2 separate regions of the Homo sapiens genome follow, and region 2 is linked to region 1. A link means that fine-mapping ties the variant in region 1 to the expression of a gene that starts in the linked region. Tissue or cell type: prefrontal cortex. Region 1 holds a variant in brackets; the other region holds the start of a gene. All regions are shown on one strand. Distances are between the middles of the regions.

The links. PIP is the estimated chance that this variant, and not a neighbour inherited with it, causes the effect.
Region 2: it holds the start of CSTPP1, and the variant in region 1 is fine-mapped to the expression of CSTPP1 in prefrontal cortex (CommonMind, PIP 0.95).

What each region holds. Positions count from the first base shown.
Region 1 is chr11:47,157,649-47,165,533 of GRCh38, forward strand. It overlaps CSTPP1 (centriolar satellite-associated tubulin polyglutamylase complex regulator 1), which reads left to right. Exons shown (of 9, transcript NM_024113.5): 7 at 165-274; 8 at 3,479-3,542; 9 at 3,816-4,599. The coding sequence ends at 3,990. It overlaps ARFGAP2 (ARF GTPase activating protein 2), which reads right to left. Exons shown (of 16, transcript NM_032389.6): 16 at 6,653-7,854. The coding sequence ends at 7,834. Among named protein-coding and RNA genes, the nearest start is that of ARFGAP2, 15 kb to the right of the region's middle. RefSeq lists silencers at 3,410-3,704, 3,455-3,621. The variant G/A (reference allele first, on the strand shown) is at 3,727.
Region 2 is chr11:46,933,552-46,941,436 of GRCh38, forward strand. It overlaps CSTPP1 (centriolar satellite-associated tubulin polyglutamylase complex regulator 1), which reads left to right and starts at 3,210. Exons shown (of 9, transcript NM_024113.5): 1 at 3,210-3,300. The coding sequence starts at 3,255. RefSeq lists an enhancer at 3,068-3,277.

The sequences.
Region 1 (7,885 bases):
GCCAGCCCCTCCTGACCATAGTGAAGGCCTGATCCCCCAGGGCCTTGGGGCTCCCAAGGCAGGTCCCTGGCTTGGCTGTGGGTATCCTCATGAACCTGAAAGTATGGATGCAGAGGTGGCCCTGAGGCTGGCTAGGCTCTGAATGTGGCATCTCTCCTTCTTAGCTGCCCACCCCCAGCACTTGTCAAAGAGGCCCTCAGCAATGTTCAGAGACTGACCTTCTATGGATTCCTCATGGCTCTCTCAAAGCACCGTGGAATCAACCAAGCCCTCGGTAAGTCAGAGCTAAGCAGCCGTCAGCCTCTCCTGCCGCACAACACAGGGAGCAGCTGGCCTCTGTTAGCAACACGGCTCCAGAGGGGAAGGGGCATCACCATCTCTGCCTTGACTTCCCAGGGCCGGACTCAATCCCAGGGAGCAGGAATATGGCGACAAAACATGGCTCTTACACATTCCCATGGTAGGGGACAGCCCTCCCTGCCTGCAGCCCTGCCCCAACATGAAACCACCTCCCCATAGCAGAAGCGCCCAGCCCCTCCTCAGAGAACCCCAGCTCTGCTTTGGGGAGCAGCCTGCAGGTCGGGCAGACACAGGACTATTTACTCAGTGACGCTAGAGATTATATATCAAAGAGACCTGAATCCCATTTATAAACAAGGCACAGGTGTGTCTGCGGAGACCTTTTTTCCAAGCTGAAAAAAAAAATCTGATTAATCTGAAAGGGAGAAAAACAAAAGTAGGGGAAGTCTGCAGTGGCCCAGTTTTTCCTGCCTGCTGTTTTTTTTCACTGAGCCTTCTCCACCCACCCCACTGTTCCTCCTCCCACAGCCACTGCTCTCCTAAGAGAAGAGCCAGTAAGCCTCCATTCTACTACAGTTTAAGGTTTTTTGTTTTTTGTTTTATTTTGGGACAGAGTCTCGCTCTGTTGCCCAGGCTGGAGTGCTGTGTACAATCTCAGCTCACTGCAGCCTCGACCTCCCGGGCTCAAGTGATGCTCTCACCTCAGCCTCCCTAGTAGCTGGGACTACAGGCATGCGCCACCATCCTGGAAAATTTTTGTGTTTTTTGTACAGACTGGGTTTCACCATGTTGCCCAGGCTGGTTTCAAACTCCTGGGCTCAAGGGATCCCCTCACCTTGCTCTCCCAAAGTACTGGGATTACAGTTGTGAGCCACTACGCCCAGCAAGGAGTTCTTTTTTGTGTCTCGAGAGATCCTCCTGCTGTGCTTGGGATCCCAGGTGCCTGAGTCTCAAGGAAAAGACACACAGCATCCCCCTTCCTTTTGCCAGTTGAGGGAATGGGATTAAGGGAAGGAAAGTTAACATTCACTAAATGCCAACCACAGCAGGCTAAGTACTGTGCTGGATGCTTTATATTTTTTATCTTACACAATATACAGTTAGCCAGGGATGCTCTGGGATACACAAGCACAAACCCCAGCAGGCTGAACTGCATGCCACCCACAGCCTGGTTATTCTGAGTCAGTGCTTGGGGCATGCACAGGTCTGGGGAGCCCTCAACTGAAGTTGGTAGCCAAGGTTACCCACTGGACTAAGACTAGAAAGGAGGCAATTGACAGGCCAGGCGTGGTGCCTCACGCCTGTAATCCCAGCACTTTGGGAGGCTGAGGCAGGTGGATCACCTAAGGTCAGGAGTTCAAGACCAGCCTGACCAACATGGTGAAACCCCATCACTACTGAAAATACAAAAATTAGCTGGGTATAGTGGCCCGCACCTGTAATCCCAGCTACTCGGGAGGCTGAGGCATGAGAATCGGTTGAGCCCAGAAGGCGGAGGTTGCGGTGAGCCGAGATCACGCCATTGCACGCCAGCCTGTGCGACAGAGCAAGACAGTCTCAAAAAAGAAAAAAAAAACAAAAACAGGCGAGAGTCAGGAATCAAGAGTAAGGGGGAGGCGGGTGGGATCTGCCCTGGTGTTCTTTCATACTCCTCGTTATGACCACTCTTTCTTCCCACCAGTAGCAGCCACTAGGAAGGAGAAGCCAATTAGCAACTGGGTCACAGCCTGAAGTAACCTCATCCCCCTTTTCTAAGGGCCTTTAAAAAGGACACTGGCTGGGTGTGGTGGCTCACGCCTGTAATCCCAACACTTTGGGAGGCCGAGGCGGCGGATCACCTGAGGTCAGGAGTTCGAGACCAGCCTGGCCAACATGGAGAAACCCCGTCTCTACTGAAAATACAAAATTAGCCAGTTGTGGTGGCACATGCCTGTAATTCCTGCTACTGGGGAGGCTGAGACAGAAGAATCACTTGAACCAGGGAGGCGGAGGTTGCAGTGAGCCAAGATCGCATCATTGCATTTCAGCCTGGACAACAAGAGCGAAACTCCATCAAATAAATAAACACTAATAGCCAGACATGGTGGCTCCACCTGTAATCCCAGCATTTGGGGAGGCTAAAGCAAGAGGATTGCTTGAGCCCAGGAGTTAATGACCAGCCTGGGCAATATAGGGAGAACCCCGTCTCTTTAGAAAAAAAACAAAAATTAGCTGGGTGTGGTGGCATGTACCATTGGTCTCAGCTACGCAGGAGGCTGAGGTGGGAAGATCGCTTGGGCATGGGAGGTCGAGGCTGCAGTGAGCCATGATCACTGCACTCCAGCCTGGGTGACAAAGCAAAACTCTGTCTCAAAAAAAAAAAAAAAAAAAAAGTCACTCTCATTCAACCACTTTTACTGCACACTAACATTGGGTGGTTGGATGGAATGGGAGACAGAAAGAAGCATGTGGTCTCAGGCCTCACCTGCATCTCCAGCGTATGAAATAGAAATCCGGAGATACACTGGTTGACGCGTCACGGAGGTCAGCCCTGTTCCCTTAGTCCCCAGGGCACCCCACAAATGAGAGGGTTCTATGAGATGTACTTTGAAAACCACTAACTTAGGGCAAGAGGGGCCAGGAGGCATCATCTGAAAAAGATTTGGAAAAAGGGGAAATCTGCCTGTGCCGGGTTAATTCTGGCCCTGACCCAGCCTTCTCCTCTTGCCCCTGGGATCCTCCTTGGAGAAGCAGAGGCAGCATTTTTTTTTTAACCATCTGTCTCCAAAGTGGGGTCATCCTGATTTAGGGACACAAAATTAGGTAATGTCTGACCTTTGGGCTTAGCCTGGACCATATCCTTTTCAGCCCAGTACCTGAGGCCTCAAGAAGGAACTCAACTCCCAGCACCAGGTCACAACCACCACCTGGTGTTGGAAGGGGATCACCACACTCCTTGGCTGTGGTGTCTGCCCCAGGCAGGGAAAGTAGGCAGTGGGATTCAATAAATGTATCAAGCAACAGCGAGCACCTTCCTGCTCCGTGACTGTTCTTGGCCCCTCTAGCAGTCCTCAGATCTTTAGATCGGCCCTCGCAGGGTCAGCAGAACAGGCAGCCGTGAAGGTGAGGGGCATGGAGGAATCTGTTGCCTGGCTGAAGGGCCCTCAGATTAACTACTGTGCCCCCAATGATCTCCTAGGAGCTTTGCCTGACAAGGGGGATCTGATGCACGACCCAGCAATGGATGAAGAGCTGGAACGGCTGTAAGTGTCAAGTGGGAGGATACTGCCCCCTTGTGGGGGCCAGACGGGTCGGACACGGCTGTGCCCCATCTGGGGCCAACACCACTTGTCTGTAACATCCCACATCTGCCAGGGAAGGGTCTGGGGGCCAGTGGAGGCCTGAGGTGTCCCTCCCTCTGAGTCCTTTGGGGGCTGCAGCCCAGGG[G/A]TTTACCCTAGTGTTAAGAGTGGGCATGGAGGCCCTGCTCTCTGTACAGGAGGCCTCTCGCTGCCCTCCAGGCTTCTTCCCTTCTTCAGGCTGGCCCAGGTCCCAGGCCTGGTCAACTCGGTCACAGCCAGTCCAGAGGCCAGTTGCCTGCCTTCCCGGACCCCTCCCCGGGTTGGCTCTCCCTGGAGACCTCTCCATCATTCCCGAAAAGTGGATGGAGAGAGTGATGGCTCCACTGAAGAGACAGACGAGTCGGAGACTTGAGGAGTCCAAAGGGTCCTGCCCACAGCGCCCTGTACCTGCTCCCACCCAGCCCTTGGTGTGCCCACCCAGCCTCCTCTCCAGCACCTTGCTGTGCTGCCCTCTGCTGCTGACAAGGTGAATAACAGCCCCAAGACCAGCCAGAGGGGCTCTGATGATCAGCCCAGCCAGTGGCCCCGGAAGGTGAATGGCCTGCTCTCCCTGGCCCTATCAGCCTGTGAACTTCACTTAGGCCCCAAGCTGACAGACTGTGCTGAGGCCACCTTGTCACGCCGTAGCCTGTTAGTCCTCCTAACCTCTTAAGAGCAGTCTCTTCTGAGCCAGCCTCTGCGGGTCCCCCAATAAGGTTCATCTCCTCACAGCAACTCCATTAAGGGGGAGAACCCGAATAGCCACGCAGGGCCTTGCACCATCAAGGGTGACACCTGCGACGCAAGTACCAGGAGGACATAACCGCTGTGGCCTGTTGGAGAACAGCCAGTAGCCTTGGTAATATGAAGGGTGGGCCAGAAGATGATTTCACTTGCAAAAACTGCTTCAAGTCTTGACCCCTTTGTGTCTAATAGCTAAACAAACATGTGAAACGAATAAAAAGTCCCTCATGTCTGGTAACTGGTGAGTCTAAAGCTCCTAGGCTGAGGGGAGAAGGGAGAGGGGGAGTTTGGGTTTTCGGTGCTTTTCTGGTAGGACTAGGAGGTAGGCCAGTGGCCCACTCAGACCTGGGGACCTGCCTCAGACAACGAGCAGAGGGGCCTAGCTTCGCACAAGAGCAACCTTCCAGAGGAAAAGTGCTCACAGCTGGAACGGCCTTCAGGAAACAGGTTCAGAGGGTTCAAGGCCAGGTTCCCATAACTTTAAAGACCGTGGCCATAAAGGGTTAATACTGCACAGCCTTCCAGCCAGGGTTTCAGTCAACATTTGCCAAGCACCTGCTTGGGGTTAGAACAGTGGGATGCAGCTGTGAAAGACAGACAGACACAGCCTGGGGCAGACACATCCCAGCCAAGACTGGAGGCAGGTAAGGACGAGTGTCTTCAACTTCTTTGGATTGAGGGCTGAAGGGGCGGGGTCCCCCAGAAAGCAAAACCCACCCAGAAGCCCAAGCAGAACAGGACTGCCTCCTCTGAAGGTGGATGTCACCACTACTAGGCATACACATTTCCTTGGGCTCATCCCTACCCAGAACGGATCATTACAGGAACTGCCTCCCAAACCCCTGCAGAGCTGAGGCCAAGACTAGGCATTCCAGCCCCGAAGCTGCTCCAGGATGCAGTGGCTCATTGCCTGTAATCCCAGCACTTTGGGAGGCCAAGGTGGGCCAACTGCTTGAGCCCAGGAGTTCAGGACCACCCTGGGAAACATAGTAGGACCCTATCTCTACAAAATAACCTTAGCCAGGCATGGTAGCTTGCACCTGTAGTCCCAGCTACTTGGGAGACCCGAGGTAGATCACTTGAACCCAGGAGGTTGAGGCTGCAGTGAGCCATGATCGTGCCACTGCACTCCCGTCTGAGTGACTGACAGAATGAGACCATCTTAAAAAAAAAAAAAAAAAAAAGCTCAGGCTGCGTGATGAGCTCTGTAGGCCCACAATGATGCACAGCCCATAAGAGACATGGTTCTCAAATCCTGGTGTCCTCAGAATCACAGGAAAGCCTACTGACGATGCAAATTACCAAGCTCCAGAGAGTCTAACTCTATCAACTTGGGATGGAGTCCAGAAATTCCAGATGATCCCAAAGCTGAATGAGTCCCAAACCTACACTCTGCAAATCCCTGGCTTACAGCCCCCTGGCTCCCTCTGCCCATCCTTTCTAATCATCCACTTCCCAGACCAGTGGTCTGTAACTACCGTGAGGACTCCTAAGGTGGCACAGAGATGTTTCAGAAGCCCCCAAGAGAAAGGGGTGGCCAAGCTAAGGATTTACACACAAACACACACCTTTTCTTCCCTAAATTTAAAGGGTCCCATTAACGTCTAAGAGTATGTGTGTGTATGTATATATATGTAATTTTTTCTTTTTTGAGACAGGGTCTCACTTTATCACCCAAGCTGGGGTGCAGTGGCGCGATCTAGTCTCACTGCAACCTCTGCCTCCCGGGTTCAAGTGACTTCTGCTTCAGCCTCCTGAGTAGCTAGGATTACAGGCATGCACCACACCGCCCCCACCCCGCTAATTTTGTATTTTTAGTAGAAATGGGGTCTCACCATGTTGGCCAGGCTGGTTTCAAACTCCTAGCCTCAAGTGATCCACCCGCCTCAGCCTCCCAAAGTGCTGGGATGACAGCCATGAGCCACTGTACCCGGCGTTAAATATTTCTTAAACTCCACTGAAACCCATCCCCAGTCAAGCCTACTGCCGTGACAAGGGGCAGGACTGCTGAGGTTGCTCGCTCGCCCTCAGCCAGCGAGTTAAAGGGCCAACTAATGCCAGCTCTTTCCTCTGCGTGCCACAGGGTGGTGAGGTCGAAGCTGCACCGGACCTCACGGCAGCACAGAGCCAAGGAGCCAGGGGCCTTTGGCTTTCAGAGAAGAGAGAAGCAGGAGGCCCTGGAGAGAGTGTCCTCAGCTTCGGTACCGACGCCCTACCATTACCGGTGGGAGCCCAGAGAGTGAGGCCAGGGGCCGGCACTGGGCAGGGAGGCAGGATCCAGAGGACACTGCTTCACTCAGACCAACAGGGAGCCAGGCCCTGCAGGGGCTTTATTTTGACACCACTTTGTTTCAATACAAACAGTCCAGAAAGAAAGTCAAGTCCCTCTGGGGGAGGGGCAAGGGGAAGAGTGGTCTGTGTTGCTTGGGAGCCCAACCTACAACCCAAAGGTGGGGGCTGGGCTGAGACTGCCGGTGCGGCAGGGGAAGATGGCACCAAGAATGACAGTGCTTGGCTCAGCTGCCAGAGGGTGAGGCCCACAGCTCTCACTGGCGGGTGCTGTCCAGGCCAAGCCCAGAATGATGCAGAGGAAGGAGCTCAGCCCCAGGAGCCTGCCTCTGCCTCTCACATCCTCTGCTTCCCTGGCCAGCATCAAGCTCACAGCATCCAGAGTCGAATCACAGCAGACAAGACCCTCCATGGCCACCAACCCGGGGAAGAAGGGATAAAGAATGTCACAGAGGGTCCTGCATTCCACAGCAGATGGTACAGAGGGACCCTGAGACACCCTGAAACAATCTTCCAAGTGCTTACTGTAGAAAGGGGTGGTGAGACGGGAGAACCCAAGGGTCTCCGGTCTGATCCCAAATGAAACCTTTAGGTACCAGGTAAAGTTTCCAGCCCTTGGTAACGCCCAGACAAAGGTCCTTCCCCTCTCCTGGCACCCAGAAGAGGCCACTGGCAGCAGCAGCAGCAGCAAGTCCGCAGCCTCTTTCCCCATGGGACGGGTCTACAGTGAACTCCTTCCAGGCCTCCCCCTGGTTCCAGAGGATGGGGACCCAAGGCCTCGAACTAGAAGAACCCTAGAGCCAGCAAAAAAAGCCTTCTACCTTCCGCTTTCCCTACCTGGGGAAAGTCTGGACCCAGAATAAGCCATCGTGGGGGAACCCCCTTTCCCAGTATGGCAGGATAAGTGAGCAGCAGCTGTGGGGGCAGGACAGAAGGACAAGAGTCTAACACACGGAGGGTGGTGTGAGAGGGAATAAAGGGCTCAGTCCACAGGCAGAGGACAAGGGCTGGTACTGACCATTCCCCTCACAGGAGTGAGCGCCTCAAAGGCCACCCCACACACACACCACACATACGAAGTAACAAATCCTCCCCAGCTTCCACAAGGCAAAGCATCCCCAGCCTGGGAACTGTGGAGTTCTTGTTGCCGTCACCATCGTAAGCCTGAGTCACAGAGCTCGGATCAGTAGGAACCGTAGCGATCCTGGGGGCGAGGGGGGAGAAAAAAAAAAAAA
Region 2 (7,885 bases), 220 kb before region 1:
ATGCTCTATTTATCATCAATATCTTATCACTTGCCTCTTTTCAGGATTATGGAGTTGTCTTCTGACTTACCGATTTACCTCGGTGATTTTTTTTTTTGGTAAATTTTTAAGAAATATATTATGATAAGTTAAGAACCTGAAAAGTCAATTTAAATCAAAGGCTGACATTTTTTTTCTTTCTTTCACATTCAAGTCACAAAAAATACACTTAATTTTAACAACTCTTATATATTTCTACTCTTCTTAAGACTGATGTAGTGTATGTTTCATTGAAAAATTTCACCAATAACCAATGTGTTTCAAAAATCTATTATCATGTAATCTGTGACAGAAGAGAAATCTAGCAGTGGCTTCTTTTTGGGAAAAACAAACACTGTCTGGAAGGTCATCACATCTGCTTAAAAAATTTTAAAGATTTTCAGGCCACTCATTTATTATTTGTTTTCAGGTTATAATACATGCCTATTATAGAAAGTTTAAGACTATAGAAAAATATAAAGAAGAAAAATGTAAACAGTCAGTAATTCCACTACCAGTAAGGCCACCTGTTATTTCGGTGAAACTTCAAATTTTTGTGAAGCCTTACTCTAGCAACCTCCTACTTTTCTAAGTCCTCCTCCTCAATAGACTGTTCAGGACATTCAGAGTGGAAGACTGACTTTGAATACAGGGGTCCTTCGGATTTTTATGGAAGGGATGGAACTGTAGGAAAAACCTACAAATTGCTCCAGAGATGACATCTTGTTCTTATTTAGCCTTCTTTGAGTCATTAACAGTCGGGCGCCACTGGTGCTGAAACTTATCATTATTATAACCACAAATGGGTTAATGCCCAAACAAAGCTATATTCTTGGGGCTGGTTCCCAGCTCCACCACACAGACCCCAGCAGCCAGCACCCGCCAAGTCCCAGGATAATGCTCCACAAATAAGACGATGTCAAATGTTCAGCCTGGACTCAACATTATCTTCTTCTATCTGGGAGCTTCCAGTTGCTAGCAGGGCAGAGCAAAAGGAAAAATAAATAAATAAAAGCCAGGTCAACAAACCCTAAAAAAAGAGACTGTGTGGTTTAGTGGTCAGACCACTGGCCTGGATGTTGGGATAGCTGAGATCCAGTTGTAGCTCTACCACTATGTGGCTGCATGATGCTAGACAAGTCACTAGACAAGTCACTGTTGTGACTTGTGCCTCAGTTTCCCTAGTTAGAAAATGGAAAAGTGCCTTAGAAAGGTTTTTTTTTTTTTTTTTTTTTTTTTTTTGAGACGGAGTCTCGCTGTGTCGCCCAGGCTGGAGTGCAGTGGTGCGATCTTGGCTCACTGCAACTTCTGCCTCCCCGGTTCAAGTGATTCTTCTGCCTCAGCCTCCTGAGTAGCTGGGATTACAGGCGTGCGCCACCACGCCTGGCTAATTTTTGTATTTTTAGTAGAGATGGGGTTTCTCCATATTGGCCAGGCTGGTCTCGAACTCCTGAACTCGTGATCCGCCCACCTCAGCAGAAAGTTTTTATGAGGACAAATAAGATTATTTGCAAATAGCTACAAGTTGCTTGGGAATAAAGTAAAATTATCACTTAATAATTACTATGGTATTACCTTATTAATAAAATAGTAAAAAGCCACAGTTATGGAACATATGAACCTCCCATAACCTCAAGCTAGATGGGGGAAGCAGATAAGAAGGCAATTAAAAAAAAATCAGATTTGCTGGACTTCACACCAAATACCAAATTAGTAAATTTGCCTCAAGACACTAAGCCCTGCTCCTACTTTGGCTCTGTCCTTTTAACCTCACCACATCCAAACTTAGAGTGACTCACAGGAGCCTAGAATTGAGACACATATACAATTTTAAGGGAAAGCAAGAATTAGGAGGTTTGAGGCTCCTTACTGGAGGACGCTAAGAATAGGCCACTCGGAACACAAAGAGAAGAACCTCCTCTTTCCTTTTCCTCCCAGTGTAGGTGGTCTACTGGTTTCCCAGTCATTCCTTTGATAGCTTGATTTTGTTTTCTTTGTCTCTTTTTCACAAACCTCACCTTGTTGGAGGGGGAGGGCACTAAAAAAGTGAGGACAGAGTGGCTTTTTCTGCTATGTCTGAACTGTGTCTAGTGCTACAGATCTCTGACCTGTTGTCAGGAGTGGAGAGGGGCGAAAAGAAATATTTAGGAACTTGAAAACCAGTGAATATTCTCTTAAAGAAGAAGTGAGCAATTGGGCATATAGGGAAAAAAATCTAACTGGTGTCCTCGTTTCTGCAGCCCCTCTCCCTCAAGAAGAGCAATGTCTTGGTAGGAAAAAGGAAAGACACCTGGGAAAGGTACCAAATAGTAAGGGCTAGGAATAGAAAGAAGAACCAAAGATAAAAAGGAATTGAGCCTGGGCGCGGTGGCTCACGCCTGTAATCCCAGCACTTTGGGAGGCCTGAGGCAGGCGGATCACCTGAGGTCGGCGGATCACCTGAGGTCAAGAGTTTGCAGACCAGCCTCGCCAACATGGTGAAACCCCATCTCTACTAAAAACACAAAAAATTAGCCAGGCGGAGTGGCGGGCGCCTGTAATCCCAGCTACTTGGGAGGCTGAGGCAGGAGAATCGCTTGAACCCGGGAGGCGCTGGTTGCAATGAACCGAGATCACGCTACTGCACTCCAGCCTGGGCGACTGAGTGAGAATTGAGAAGAAATGGCAATTAGTTCAGAGGACTTAATGAGTACCTTTTGTGTGTCCAGCCGTCATAGGCAGAAAAGACACATCTCTGACCTCTAGAAGCATCCAGGGTATATGCATACGTAAGCACTTTGTAGCAATTTAAGATAGTAAATACCAAAGAGATAAAAATAGCTAATGGGATACTAAGTGTTTATGGGGGCCAAAGGGCGGGGGCTATTACTGAGTTAGGATAAACAGTGTATAAAAGCAGGGATAGTTATGAAATTCAGAAACTGCGTATATGGGCGGCTGACAGTAATTCTTCGACACTGGGAAACATAACGGATTCAAAAGAATTCTTCATCTCAGATTCCTCTAAAACCAAGTCTTCAAGAATGGGAGTCCAAAGAAACCTGGACCATCGTGAAGCGACTGCCCCCGGAACTTGAGTGGCCAGCTCCACTTTGCGACACGGAGACTGTTTGTGTGACACCTCCTCCAGCTCCCGTCCCCCTTCCGCCGCGTGGGTGCCATGGCAACGGAGAGAGACGGCAACCTGGGTTCCGGAAGCCGGAGAGCTGGAGCTTTGAAGCCACCCCGGTCAAAGGATGCTGAGTCCGGAGCGCCTAGCCCTACCGGACTACGAGTATCTGGGTAGGAACCCCCTTTAACTTTGGGGAGGGAAAGACGTGCAGACGAATTAGGCCAGGGTCTGGGAGGAGGCGGGGGCGGGGTCTGAGTGGGATCGGGTCCGGGTGGTATGGGGAGGGGCGGAGAGGCGGGGGTTCCAGGGCCTGAGCCTGTAAGGCCGAGCAGGAAGGAAAAAAGCACCTGGGAAGTAAAGAATGTTTGAAGTGTAGGGGCTGGAACTCAGGCAATGTGGATTGTGTTCAAATGGGTCAGGTTGGCGTTGAGGATTTGGGGCCCTGTTGGGGTATTATTGATATGCTGGTAGTGGAGTAAGAATAACCTTGGAACCTCAAGTGCCAAATCAGTCAGCGAACATTTCGAGCTTTTCTTTTTCATTAGGCACTGTGCTAAGCATTTTTCATGCATCATTCTTCATTTGAATTTCTCAACAGCCCTAGGAGGAATTACCGTGTTTTCTTCCAGTTTTGCAGGTGGAGAAACTGGGGCTGAAGAGGTAACTTGCGTTAAGTTAGGCCACACAGCTAGAAAATGGTAGCGCTAGGATCAGAACCGGATTTGCCCACTCCAACAGAACTTGAGATATTGACTTGGCTCTTGAGCTAAGACTGTATATGTAGTACTTTGTTGAGCATCTTTAGTGTATAAGGCATTTAATGAATGAAAAAAGGCACACACACGCATAGATATGTACACACACACACATATGCACACAATACACATTTTATTTTATTTTATTTTTGAGACGGAGTCTAGCTCTGTCGCCCGGGCTGGAGTGCAGTGGCGCGATCTTGGCTCACTGCAAGCTCCGCCTCCCGGGTAGCTGGGACTACAGGCGCCCGCCACCTCGCCCGGCTACTTTTTTGTATACTTAATAGAGACGGGGTTTCACCGTGTTAACCAGGATGGTCTCGATCTCCTGACCTCGTGATCTGCCCGCCTCAGCCTCCAAAAGTGCTTGGATTACAGGCGTGAGCCACCGCGCCCGGCCACAATACACATTTTAAATAATTCATAGACTTTTATTTTTTTAAAGACGTTTTGTTTTGTTTTGTTTTGTTTTTTGAGACAGAGTTTCTCTCCTGTTGCCCAGGCTGGAGTACACTGCAACCTCTGCCTCCCGGATTCAAGCGATTCTCCTGCCTCAGCCTCCCGAGTAGTTGAGATTACAGGCATGCGCCACCACGCCAGGTTAATTTTATATTTTTAGTAGAGACGGGGTTTCACCATGTTGGTCAGGCTGGTCTCAAACTCCTGACCTCAGGTGATCCGCCCACCTCGGCCTCCCAAAGTGTTGGGATTACAGGCGTGAGCCACTGCACATGGCGAGAAGTTTTAAGTTTACAGAAAATTGAGCAGATAGTACGGCGAGTTCCCATATACCTTGGGTCTCCCTCACTCACAGTTTCCGCTATTATTTACATCTTGCATTAGTGTGGTACATTTGTTACAATGGATAAACATATATATTTATAATATATAATAATATATTATATATTATTATTATTATATAGATATATTATTATAGATACATATTATTAACTAAAGTCCATAGTTTACATTAGGGTTCTTTGTGTTGTTCAGTTCTGTGGGTTTTGATAAATGCATGTCATGTATTCACCATTCCATTATCATACAGAATAGTTTCACTGTCCTGAAAAATCCCCTGTGCTCCACCTATTGATCCTTCTCCCTCCCCCTGCAGCCCTTGCCAACCACTGATCTTATGGTCTCTAAAGTTTTGCCTTTTCCAGAATATCATGTAGTTGGAGTCATACAGTGTGTAAATTTTTCAGATGGGCTTCTTTAACTTAGCAGTAAGCATTTAAGTTTCCTCCATGTCTTTCTGTGGCATGATAACTCATTTCTTTTTATTTCTGAATAATATTCCATTGTATGGATGTACCATGCACATCTTTTTTTTTTTTCTTCTTCTTTTTTTTTTTTTTTGAGACAATGTCTGGCACTGTCACTCAGGCTGGAGTGCAGTGGCACTATCACGGCTCACTGCAGCCTCAACCTCCGGGCTCAAGTGATCCTGCTACCTCAGCCTTCCAAGTAGCTGGGACTACAGGCACATGCCACCATCCCTGGTTAATTTTTTAATTTTTTGTAGAGAAAGAGTCTCACTATGTTGTCCAGGTTGGTCTTGAACTCCAGGGCTCAAGCAAGCCTCTTACTGTGGCCTTCCAAAGTACTGAGATTACAGGTGTGAGTCACTGCACCTGGCTTACATCTTTTTTTTTTTTTTTTTTTTTTTTTGAGATGGAGTTTCACTCTTGTTGCCTAGGCTGGAGTGCAATGATGCGATCTGGGCTCACCCCAACCTCCGCCTCCTGGGTTCAAGTGATTCTCCTGCCTCAGCCTCCCTAGTACCTGGGATTACAGGCATGCGCCACCACGCCTGGCTAATTTTGTATTTTTAGTAGAGATGGGTTTCTCCATGTTGGTCAGGCTGGTCTCAAACTCCTGACCTCAGGTGATCCACCCACCTCGGCCTCCCAAACTGCTTGGATTACAGGCGTGAGCCACCGCGCCCAGCCAACATCTTTTTAAATGAAAAACAATTCTGGTTTACATTTTGTTTAACTTATTTTAAAAATTAATTTTAAAATATTTTTTAAGGTTGGTAATATGGAAACTTGATTCAAAGTATTTTTTAGGCCTGGCATGGTGGCTCATGCCTGTAATCCCAATACTTTGGGAGGCTGACGTAGGAGGATTGCTTGAGGTCAGGAGTTCAAGACCAGACTGGATGATAGAGTGAGACCCTGCCTCTAAAATGCATAGATAGATAGATAGATAGATAGATAGATAGATAGATAGATAGGTAGATGTTTTTAGTGAAAAGCCTACCCCTTTGCCTCCATCTGCCCAGTTTCCATCCATCCTCAGCCTCCCAAAAGTAACCACTATTATTGTTTTCCTGTGTATCTTTCCAGAGTTTATTATATACATAAAGGAGTATACAGTGCATACTTTTTCATTTAATACATCTTGAAGTAATTTCCGTTTCTTTTGTTTTTTCTTTTCTTTCTTTCTTGAGACAGAGTCTCACTCTGTCACCCAGGCTGGAGTGCAGTGGCACCATCTCGGCTCACTGCAACCTCCACTTCCTGGGTTCAAGCCATTCTCCTGCCCCAGCCTCTCAAGTAGCTGGAACTGCAGGCACGAGCCACCACACCTGGCTAAGTTTTTGTATTTTGGGTAGAGATAGGGTTTCTCCATGTTGCCCAGGCTGCTTTTGAACTTCCTGAGCTCAAGCGATCTGCCCACCTTGGCTTCCCAAAGTCCTGGGATTATAGGCGTGAGCCACTGCGCCTGGCCTCGAAGTAATTTCTCAGTCAGTAGGGAGCTTCTTCGTTCTTCATGAAATTCATTTTTAGCTATATAGTATTTAAATAATTTATTTAACCAGTCCCGCACTGGTAAACAAGTTGTTTTTAGCCTTTTGCTGTTACTAAGAATGCTGCAATGAATAACCTGCAGTTTTGTTCCTTTGCAAGTGTATCTGCAAGAATAAGTTCCACAAAGTGGAATTGGTGGATTAAGGGCATATGCATTGAAGTACTTATAGATATTGTCAGATTGCCCTTAATAGGTGTTGTACCATTTTGCCACCAGCAATGAAAGAGAATGCCTGTTTCCCCATTGTGCTGACAACAAAATACATCAAACTTGGATTTTTTTCAATCTAAGTGACAGATAGTCTGAGTAGATTTAATATGCATTTTTAAATGAAGTTGAGTGCCTTTTTACCAAGTTTAAGGGCTGATTGGTCTTTGAAAGCTATATATATACACATATATACATGAACATATATATAGACATATATATAGAGAGAGAGCTTAAGACAGTGACCACATCCATTAATCAGCTAAAAGGGGATATCACAGACAATTTTGTATCTAATGAATAACAGTATCAATGTCAAGCAATGCCTAGACTTTTTTCCAAAGATTTTATGTATTTTATTACCCAGTACTCAATGAATATATGAAATATTTGAAAAGGCTAGTTCATTGTTCAGTTCCTTGGGTGTTTGCTGTTTGAATTTTATGTCTCAAAGGCTTGGCAGATTTGGTGTATTGGTGCCTTGGTGAATAGAAGTTGGTGGTCTCTTCATAAATGGCGTTTTCAGGAAGGCCAATTCAGTGGCAGTGTTGAGAATGAATCTACAAACAGAATCAGAGTCTCAGGTTGGTTGAAAAAGCTTCAATGTTTGTGAAGCCCAACCAATCACCTAATAATTGAATCCTATACAAATGCTTCTTCATGCTTTGTTGCATATTTAAGTGTCTTAATTCCTTGTCCTAACCACTAACTAGACATTCATACTGCCCTCAGCATGGTCACACCCCTCACTGCCTTCTCCTGGTTCATCAAACCGTATCACTCTGCTGAAATGCGTTTGTCTTTAGTTGAGAACTATCCCTGCCTTTTACAATTTGTCTCTCTTAGAGGCATGCTGCTTTGACCTATTCACCCTCAATTTTTTTTTTCTTTTTTCTTGAGACGGAGTCTCGCTCTGTCACCCAGGCTGGAGTGCAATGATGTGATCTTGGCTCACTCCAACCTCCGCCTCCAGGGT